3 linked regions of the Homo sapiens genome follow. The protein of the gene in region 1 interacts with the protein of each later gene in a pairwise test. Each region holds a gene or a part of one and is shown in the gene's direction. Other genes may lie near its edges. The genes, in order: CLIP3, FMR1 and KIF1B.

Evidence for each region.
Region 2: the proteins of CLIP3 (region 1) and FMR1 interact in a two-hybrid assay, tested with the Homo sapiens proteins (one large-scale study listed by IntAct).
Region 3: the proteins of CLIP3 (region 1) and KIF1B interact in binary tests that used the Homo sapiens proteins (3 or more experiments, as listed by UniProt).

What each region holds. Positions count from the first base shown.
Region 1 is NC_000019.10:36,019,323-36,022,976, reverse strand, and holds part of CLIP3 (CAP-Gly domain-containing linker protein 3), read left to right. Parts: intron 1-3,592; exon of another isoform or gene 3,593-3,654. UniProt on the Homo sapiens protein: Functions as a cytoplasmic linker protein. Involved in TGN-endosome dynamics. May modulate the cellular compartmentalization of AKT kinase family and promote its cell membrane localization, thereby playing a role in glucose transport in adipocytes.
Region 2 is NC_000023.11:147,946,273-147,949,926, forward strand, and holds part of FMR1 (fragile X messenger ribonucleoprotein 1), read left to right. Parts: intron 1-2,410; coding exon 2,411-2,572; 3' UTR 2,573-3,654.
Region 3 is NC_000001.11:10,216,989-10,220,642, forward strand, and holds part of KIF1B (kinesin-like protein KIF1B), read left to right. Parts: intron 1-3,654. UniProt on the Homo sapiens protein: Has a plus-end-directed microtubule motor activity and functions as a motor for transport of vesicles and organelles along microtubules.

The sequences.
Region 1 (3,654 bases):
TTCATGCCATTCTCCTGCCTCAGCCTCCCGAGTAGCTGGGACTACAGGTGCCCACCACCATGCCTGGCTAATTATTTGTATTTTTAGTAGAGAGAGGGTGTCACTGTGTTAGCCAGGATGGTCTTGATCTCCTGACCTCGTGATCCGCCCGCCTCAGCCTCCCAAAGTGCTGGGATTACAGGCGTGAGCCACCGCGCCTGGCCTTTTATTTTTATTTTTAGTAGCAACGGGTTTCACCATATTGGCCAGGCTGGTCTCAAACTCCTGCCCTCAAGCGATTCGCCCGCCTTGGCTCCCAAAGTGCTGGGATTACAGGCATAAGCCACTGCGCCCGGCCCCATCCAGAAAGCATTCTGCTGTGCACGATCTAATCATATCCATTGCACAATTCAGAAGGAAGGTTGGGTTGACTCTTCCCATTTTACAAGCCAGACTATAAGAGGCTCCAACAGGTGAAAACCTTTATCTGAAGACACGGAATACTAATCACTGCCCCTTAGAGAAGCAGCATAGCACAGCGTCATGAACTCAGGCTCAGGGACTTGCCCAGGTAAATCTCAGCTTTGCAACTTCCCACCTGTGGACCTGGAGCCAGTGATTCTGCCTCTTTGGGTGTCAATGTCTTCATCCGTAAATGGAGATAATAATAGTAACCACCTTAGGGGGCTGGTTGAGGTTTAAATTAATTAAAATGCGTAAGGCCATTAGAACAGAGTCCAGCGCATACTAAATGCTCTTTGTGTGTGCCAGGCACTGTTCTAGTCCCTCCACCAACACTCTTAAGATCAGCACTAATTGTCGGGGCGCGGTGCCTCACGCCTGTAATCCCAGCACTTTGGGAGGCAGAGGTGGGCGGATCACGAGGTCAGGAGATCGAGACCATCCTGGCTAACCCGGTGAAACCTCGTCTCTACAAAAAAAATACAAAAAATTAGCCAGGCATGGTGGCAGGTGCCTGTAGTCCCAGCTACTCAGGAGGCTGAGGCAGGAGAATGGCATGAACCCAGGAGGCGGAGCTTGCAGTGAGCCAAGATCATGCCACTGCACTCCAGCCTGGGCCAAAGTGTGAGACTCCGTCTCCAAAAAAAAATAAATAAATAAAAATAAAAAAAGATCAGCACTAATTAATTAGCCTATTATATGGACCAGGAACTGAGGCATGGAGAGGTGAATGAGCCTCCCATAATGATAATAACCACACTCACTAAAGTCTCACTGCAGCTAAGCAAGTTTACATGTGTTAAAAATGTTTCCGCCAAATGTGGTGGCTCATGCCTGTAATCCCAGCACTTTGGGAGGCTGAGGCAGAAGGATCGCTTGAGCCCAGGAATTCGAGACCAGCCTGGGCAACATAGTGAGACCTCATCTCTACTAAAAATGAAAAAATTAACCAGGCATGGTGGCACACACCTATAGTCCTAGCTACTTGGGAGGCTGAAGTGAGAGGATCGCTTGAGCCCAGGAGTTCAAGACCAGCCTGGGCAATCAACATGGTGAGACCTCATCTCTACTAATAATGAAAAAATTAATCAGGCATGGTGGCGCACACCTGTAGTCCTAGCTACTTGGGAGGCTGAAGTGAGAGGATCACTTGTGCCCAGGAGTTTGAGGCTGCACTGTGCCAGGGTCGTGCCACTGCACCCCTGGCATGGGCAACAAAGTGAGACCCTGTCTAAAAAAAAAAAAAGTTTCCGCCAGATGATCACTCCATGAGGTGGCTTACTATCTCTATTTTACAGATGAAACTGAGGCTCAATAAGTCCCCTGACCAAAGTTACAGCATGATAATAGCTAACAGGCTGAGCACAGTGGCTTCACACCTGTAATCCCAGCACTTTGGGAGGCCAAGATGGGGAGGATCGCTTGAGGCCAGGAGTTTGAAACTAACCTGGGCAACATAGGGATACTCCATTTCTATTTTTAACAAAAGTTTGTTGTTGTTGTTGTTGTTTTAATTAGCCAGGCTTTGGTGGCGTTCACCTGTAGTCCCAGCTACTCGGGAGACTGAGGAGGGAAGATTGCTTGAACCCAGGAGTTCAAGGTTACACTGAGCTATGATTGCACCACTGCACTCCAGCCTGGGCCACAGAGTGAGACCCTGTCTCTAAAATAGAAAAAAAATTTCAATAACGAATACTTGCTGATCCTTTACTTAATACCAAGCCCTGTTCTGAGGGCTTTAATTTCTCTATAACAGCCCTGTCCAACAGAGCTTTCTGTAATGGTGGAAATATTCTGTCTGTGCTGTCCAGTAAAGTAGCTACAAGCTACATGTGACAATTGAGCACTTGAAATATGGCTAGTGTGACTGGGGAAATGCATTTTTAATTTAGTTTAAATGTATTGATTTGTATTTTTATTTATTTATATTTTTTCTTGAGACAGAGTCTTGCTCTGTTGCTCAGGCTGGAGTGCAGTGGTGCTATCTGGGCTCACTGCAACCCTCCTGGGTTCAAGCAATTCTCCTGCCTCAGCCTCCCGAGTAGCTGGGATTACAGGCGTGCACCATCATGCCTGGTTAATTTTTGTATTTTTAGTAGAGATGGGGGTTTCACCATGTTGGCCAGGCTGGTCTTGAACTCCTGACCTCAGGTGATCCTCCCACCTCGGCCTCCCAGAGTGCTAGGATTATAGGTGTGAGCCACCGCGCCCGGACTAAATTTATTTATTTTTAAATTTAAAAATCATCTGAGTCTTCTTTCTAAGGTATGTATTTATTTATTTTTGAGACAGGGTCTTGCTTGTTGCCCAGGCTGGAGTGCAGTGGCACCATCATAGCTCACTGCACCCTTGAACTCCTGGGCTCAAGCGATCCTCCCACCTCAGCCTCCCAAGTAACTGGGACAACAGGCTTGAGCTACTGCACCTGGTTACCTTTTTTCTTTCTTTTATAGAGAATAGGGTCTTGCTGTCTTTGTTTTTTGGAACAGATTAAGATTAGAGGGTCTCGCCATTTTCACCCAGGCTGGTCTGAAACTCCTGGCCTCAAGTGATCCTCCAGCCTTGGCATCCCAAAGTGTTGGGATTATAGGCATGAGCCACCACACCCGGCCTTAGTTTAAATTTAAATTGTTGGCCAGGCATGGTGGCTCATGCCTGTGATCCCAGCACTTTGGGAGGCCGAGGCGGGTGGATCACCTGAGGTCAGGAATTCGAGACCAGCCTGGCCAACATGGCGAAGCCCCGTCTCTACTAAAAATACAAAAATTAGCCAGGCGTGGTGGCATGCACCTGTAGTCCCAGCTACTTGGGAGGCTGAGATGGGAGAATTGCTTGAACCCAGGAAGTGGAATTTGCAGTGAGCCGAGATCGTGCCACTGCACTCGAGCCTGGCAACAGAGTGAGACGCTGTCTCGAAAAAAAAAAAAATAAATAAAATAAATAAATAAATAAATTTACATTGTCCTATGTGGCTAGTCACTATTCACTATATGAGACAGGGCAACTCTTTAACAATCCTATAAGGTGAGTATAATTTCTGTTCCCATTTCACAGCAAAGGAAGTTGAGGCACACAGAGGTTAAGTCATGTAGCCAGCAAATGGTGATGTGTGACCTGGGGTTTGGGCCCAGGGCGGCCTCATGCAACCCACCTTGCTGCCCGTGTGTGGGCACTCCACGTTGGCCTCCCAGCATTCCTTCCTTAGCCATCGCC
Region 2 (3,654 bases), on another chromosome or scaffold:
TTGCTCCCCCAAATTAACAGGGATAGGGTATTCTCTTTGAATAGAAAATAAGGAAAAGAAGGTGTCTGTCTTACAACTAATAATCATGATAGACAGAGCTGATGATATTCAGCTAGTCTCCATGCTTGGTCAGTCATCTGCTTATTTACAGCCAGGACCTAGTCCGAGGATCTCTTCTCAATTGGCTGTCACCAGTGCTAAACCAATTGTTAAATAATTTTAAAATTATCTCCTGAGCACATCCAGGCACCTTTGCTAAGTGCTTTGTGTATGTTTTATCTCATTTAATCTTACAGCAACCCACTGAGGTAGTTTTATTATTCCACTTTATAGGTGAGTGCACTGTAGCTTCAGTCCTTTGCCCACAGTCACATAGCTAGCATATGTCCAAATGATAGTCAAACCTTAGTGTCTGATTCTCTGAATCTATGTTGTCGTCTACTTTTTCTGTAACTTTTAATTATTAAGTAGTTAGGGTTCCTTCCTGACTATGGATTCATTTGGGACCATCACCCAAGATTAGTGAGAGATACTTTTTAAGACAAAGTTTATGATGGAATATTTCTTGGAATTCATAGCAGCTCAAAGTAAGTGTTAACTATTGGTGGGTTCTTAAGGACCAGCATGTCCAAGGGATAGATAGATTGGTAAATTACTGTATGTACCTGTCTTTTACAAAGCTATAAGATATTTAAGTACCCGTTTTGTAATTTTCCACTTAAACTGATATGTTTGATGAACTTGGCAGTCTAACTGCATTGGTTAAAAGGATGCACATTTATATTTCTAAATGAAATGGAATACTGAATTTAAAAGGTGATGTTTTCTCTATTAAGTATGAAAATAGATACAAATCTGGCCAGGCGCGGTGCTCACGCCTGTAGTCCCAGCGCTTTGGGAGGCCAAGGTGGTCAGATCACCTGAGGTCAGGAGTTCGAGACCAGCCTGGCTAACATGGTGAAACCCCATTTCTACTAAAAATACAAAAAATTAGCCAGACGTGTTGGCGGGCACCTGTAATCTCAGCTACTCGGGAGGCTGAGGCAGGAGAATCGCTTGAACCCAGGTGGCAGAGGTTGCAGTGAGCCAAGATCTTGCCATTGCACTCCAGCCTGAGCAACAAGAGCAAAACACCATCTCAAAAAAAAAAAAAAAGGGCCAGGCACGGTGGCGCACGCCTGTAATCCCAGCACTTTGGGAGGCCAAGGCGGGTGGATCACAAGGTCAGGAGATCGAGACCATCCTGGCTAACATGGTGAAACCCCATCTCTACTAAAAATACAAAAAATTAGCCGGGCATGGTGGCGGGCACCTATAGTCCCAGCTACTCAGGAGGCTGAGGCAGGAGGATGGCGTGAACCTGGGAGGCGGAGCTTGCAGTGAGCCAAGATCGCGCCACTGCACTCCAGCCTGGGCGACAGAGCGAGACTGTCTGGGAAAAAAAAAAAAAAAGATACAAATCAAAGTACTGAATCCTTGGTAACGAGACATTTAAAACACATGCACATACCCACTACTTAAACATACTTTGAAATTACAACCATTTGGGGATGTTTTTAGCATTTGTGCTTGAAGTAGATCAATATTTGTAGTTGTTTTAGTTCCATTTGTCACTGTTAACTTTCATTTGTACCTCTGGAATTAGCAGTGCTGTATTCAGCATTGGCACTTAAAATATTTTATAGCTCTTAGAACACTATTTTTTAAATTACATTGATCTTTATACTCTCCTAGGATTCCAGTCCTTCCACAAATTATTATATGCAGTTTTCTTTATACTGTTCCATTCTTCAGACAGAGTTCAGGTTGTAGGATCATCTGAATTTTCTTAGTGAAATACAAGCCAGTAGAAACCAAAGCTCGTGTTTTTCTACTGTATGACTATGGGAGCTCTCAGTATAGAGAAACTTGATCATACCTGTGATAGATATAAAGATGTAAATTAAAGTCTAGTTAGTGAGTTATTTGAGGGTAAAGCCAGAATAGGAAAACATTTTGTTTCTCTTTTCCTGGGCTTCACAATCTTTGGAGAATAACTAATTTTATTTTAACTCTAGTGTTAGAGGCATGTATGTCTTCTGGTAATCAGTAATAGTAATTCATTTTACCTGTTTGTTTCTCACTGTTTTATTCTACTTAGAAGAAGACATGATAGGATTGTGAGTTTTTCTCTAACTTTGGATGCAGTGAGATGACCAGTGTGTTCCAGTTAAAGAAGAAGAGTGTTTTAAAATCATAAACCAAATAAAGAATCCTACCTTACATTAATTTCTTGCACTTCTTCTGTTCTCATCTCCATTTCTCTTTTTAACATGTGGAATTTACACTTCAGGTTTAAATTTCTTGTCAGGCCAATTACAGATTACAGTAGGATATGGTCTGTGTATATAACAACTATAACTTGTTTTAGATCAGAGTTGACTGCAATAATGAAAGGAGTGTCCACACTAAAACATTACAGAATACCTCCAGTGAAGGTAGTCGGCTGCGCACGGGTAAAGATCGTAACCAGAAGAAAGAGAAGCCAGACAGCGTGGATGGTCAGCAACCACTCGTGAATGGAGTACCCTAAACTGCATAATTCTGAAGTTATATTTCCTATACCATTTCCGTAATTCTTATTCCATATTAGAAAACTTTGTTAGGCCAAAGACAAATAGTAGGCAAGATGGCACAGGGCATGAAATGAACACAAATTATGCTAAGAATTTTTTATTTTTTGGTATTGGCCATAAGCAACAATTTTCAGATTTGCACAAAAAGATACCTTAAAATTTGAAACATTGCTTTTAAAACTACTTAGCACTTCAGGGCAGATTTTAGTTTTATTTTCTAAAGTACTGAGCAGTGATATTCTTTGTTAATTTGGACCATTTTCCTGCATTGGGTGATCATTCACCAGTACATTCTCAGTTTTTCTTAATATATAGCATTTATGGTAATCATATTAGACTTCTGTTTTCAATCTCGTATAGAAGTCTTCATGAAATGCTATGTCATTTCATGTCCTGTGTCAGTTTATGTTTTGGTCCACTTTTCCAGTATTTTAGTGGACCCTGAAATGTGTGTGATGTGACATTTGTCATTTTCATTAGCAAAAAAAGTTGTATGATCTGTGCCTTTTTTATATCTTGGCAGGTAGGAATATTATATTTGGATGCAGAGTTCAGGGAAGATAAGTTGGAAACACTAAATGTTAAAGATGTAGCAAACCCTGTCAAACATTAGTACTTTATAGAAGAATGCATGCTTTCCATATTTTTTTCCTTACATAAACATCAGGTTAGGCAGTATAAAGAATAGGACTTGTTTTTGTTTTTGTTTTGTTGCACTGAAGTTTGATAAATAGTGTTATTGAGAGAGATGTGTAATTTTTCTGTATAGACAGGAGAAGAAAGAACTATCTTCATCTGAGAGAGGCTAAAATGTTTTCAGCTAGGAACAAATCTTCCTGGTCGAAAGTTAGTAGGATATGCCTGCTCTTTGGCCTGATGACCAATTTTAACTTAGAGCTTTTTTTTTTTAATTTTGTCTGCCCCAAGTTTTGTGAAATTTTTCATATTTTAATTTCAAGCTTATTTTGGAGAGATAGGAAGGTCATTTCCATGTATGCATAATAATCCTGCAAAGTACAGGTACTTTGTCTAAGAAACA
Region 3 (3,654 bases), on another chromosome or scaffold:
TTTGAGACAGAGTCTTGTTCTGTCACCAAGACTGGAGTGCAGTGGCCTGATCTTGGCTCACTACAACCTCTGCCTCCCGGATTCAAGTGATTCTCCTGCCTCAGCCTCCCAAGTAGCTGGGATTACAAACGTGTGCCACCACGCCCAGCTAATTTTTGTATTTTTAGTAGAGATGGGGTTTCACCGTGTTGGCCAGGCTGGTCTCAAACTCCTGACCTCAGGTGATCCGCCCGCCTCTGCCTTCCAAAATGTTGGGATTACGGGCGTGACCCATTGTGCCCAGCCTTTTCTACTGTTCTTGAACACACCAGGCATAGTCCTACCATAGGGCACTTGCTCTTACTCTTTCTTTTTCTTTTTTTTTTTTTTTTGAGACAGCCTTGCTGTGTCTCCCAGGCTGGGGTGCAGAGGCACAATCTCCTGGGTTCAAGCAATTCTCCTGCCTCGGCCACCTGAGCAGCTGGGATTATAGGCACCCACCACCAAGCCCAGCTAATTTTGTATTTTTAGTAGAGACGGTGTTTCACCATGTTGGCCAGGCTGGTCTTGAACTTCTGGCCTCAGGTGATCCACCTGCCTCAGCCTCCCAGAGTGCTGAGGTTACAGGCGTGAGCCACCGCACCCAGCTGCTCTTACTCTTTCTTCTGCCTGGAATACTTTTCCCCTGAAATCTGCTTGGCTAACTCCTTTACCTCTTTCAAGTCTTTGCTTAAATCTCAGCACATCAGCAGGCCCACCCTGACCTCATTTATGCACCTGCACAGCAATCCTTCCCACCACCACAATCTTGAACCCCCTGACTTTGCTGTACTCCCCCGTGATGCTGATTACATTCTCGATTCTCTATACCTGATTTATTAATTTTAATGTCCTCCCTCTCCCTACTAGAATGTAAATTCCTCCATGACAAGGAGGTTTGTTTATCTTTTTTGTTCACGGATTATTTTTCCCAGGAACTGCCTGTTGCATTGTAGGCACCCAGTAAATAGCTATTGAATAAAGTATAGAAATGTGCAAGTCTTTCCTATTACAAATAAAGGGCTGGGGGGAGGAAAATCCCTCCTTCGTTTCTGTTCCTTCCAATAAAATCCTTCATTCCTATTTGCTCTCTCCTGCTCATCATAGCCAGGCTCTGACAGTGTCATGGATACTGGCATTTCCCACTTCCGTGCCAACCCACTACAGGCTGGCTTCAGTGTCCCCTCCTGCCCCCCACTTCATGGATACTGCCCTTGCTGTGGTTTCCAGCCTTTATTGCTGAAACCAGGAGGCACACTTCACACTTTTGCAGTACTAAGTATGTTACTCATTTTGTTTTTTTCTTCCTTGAACTTTTGGCTACTTCTGTTTGTGGGCTGGTTTCAGTCTTCTGAAACTGCTGTTTTTCTGGCTACTCACATGGCTATTAAATTCATTCAACATAAATCTTTGTGCAACTTTTTTTTTTTTTGAGACAGAGTCTCGCTCTGTCATCCAGGCTAGAGTGCAGTGGTGTGACCTTGGCTCACTGCAACCTTCATCTCCCGGGTTCAAGTGATTCTCCTGCCTCAGCCTCCCGAGTAGCTGGGATTACAGTCATGTGCCATCACACCCAGCTAATTTTTGTATTTTTAGTAGAGACAGCGTTTCATCATGTTGGCCAGGCTGGTCTTGAACTCCTGACCTCAAGTGATCCACCCGCCTTGGCCTCCCAAAGTGTTGGGATTATACGCGTGAGCCACGATGCCCAGCCGATCTTTATGTAACTTTTAAAAGCTTGCTGTGTCGTTTGGTTTTATTTGTTTTTAGGAACTAGAACTTTGACTACACAACATATTTACAGTGTTAAATAGCAGAATAGGCTATTACAGGAAGTTTTTATTTATTTATAATTTATACCAGTTACTACTTCTAGAAAGGATTTGAGCAGCTTACCACAAATATATACAGTGAAGCTATTAAAATATAAATAAGTAAAAATTTATGTAACAAGAAAAACTAAATGTATAGGTTGCCTCGGCTAATGTGGTTATTGTAATTTAATTTGGAAACATGGAATTTAATGCAAAAAGGGAAAGATAAATTGTACAATTTTCACTCTGGTAAAAGAAAGCCTAATAGTTTGTCGAGAGAAACCTTTTTTCCTAGTATTAAATTCTAAAGATGTTCTAAGAGAAAATTGTTATAAACATCCTGATATAAAGATACGTACGGCCGGGCGCGGTGGCTCATGCCTGTAATCCCAGCACTTTGGGAGGCCGAGGCTGGTGCATCACTGAGGTTGGGAGTTTGAGACCAGCCTAACCAACATGGAGAAACCCCATCTCTACTAAAAATACAAATTTAGCCGGGCATGGTGGTGCATGCCTGTAATCCCAGCTACTTGGGAGACTGAGGCAAGAGAATCACTTGAACCTGGGAGGCGGAGGTTGCAGTGAGCCGAGATCATGCCATTGCACTCCAGCTTGGGCAACAAGAGCAAAACTCCATCTTAAAAGTAAAAAATAGGCCAGGCCTTATGGCTCACGCCTGTAATCCCAGCACTTCGGGAGGCCGAGGCAGGCGGATCACCTGAGGTCGGGAGTTTGAGACTAGCCTGACCAACATGGAGAACCCCATCTCTACTAAAAATACAAAAAAATCAGCTGAGTGTGGTGGTGCATGCCTGTAATCCCAGCTACTCGGGAGGCTGAGGCAGGAGAATCACTTGAACTCAGGAGGCAGAGGTTGTTGTAAGCTGAGATCGTGCCATTGCACTCCAGCCTGGGCAACAAGAGTGAAACTCACCTCAAAAAAATAAAAAATAAAGACTTACTAGGGCTGGGGACAGTGGCTCACACCTGTAATCCCAGCACTTTGGGAGGCCTAGGTGAGAGGATTGCTTGCGCCCAATAGTTCGGTATCAGCCTGGGCAGTGAAGCAGGATCTCATCTCTATTAAAGATAAATTTAGTGGATGGGCGCGGTGGTTCATGCTTGTAATCCCAGCACTTTGGGAGGCTGAGGCAGGCGGATCACCTGAGGTCAAGAGTTCGAGACCAGCCTGACCAACATGGAGAAACTCCGTCTCTACTAAAAATACAAAATTAGTTGGGTGTGGTGGCACATGCCTGTAATCCCAGCTACTCGGGAGGCTGAAGTAGGAGAATCACTTGAACCCGGGAGGTGGAGGTTACGGTGAGCCGAGATCGCGAGCCATTGCACTCCAGCCTGGGCAACAAAAGCGAAACTCCGTCTCAAAAAAAAAAAAAAAAATTAGGTAGGTGTGGTGGCATGTGCCTGTAGTCCCAATAACTCCAGAGGCTGAGGGAGGAGGATTGCTTGAGCCTGGGAGATTGAGGCTGCAGTGAACTGTGATTGTTCCACTGTACTCCAGCCTGGGCAACAGAGTGAGACCCTGTTTCAATAGATAGATAGATAGATAGATAGATGATAGATAGATAGATAGATAGATAGATAGATAGATAGATAGATATGTACTAAATGTTTTCAACAGCTTCTTTAAGTAAAAGGAAGAAATGTTCTTCAAATACCTTTACAAAATAAAATAAAAAATAAACAGGGCAGTGATGCATGCCTATAGTACCCAGCTACTCCTGAGGCTGAGGTACAGCCAAGGAGTTTTGAGGCTGCCATGAGCTTCAATCACACCACTCACTCCAACCTGGGCGGTGAA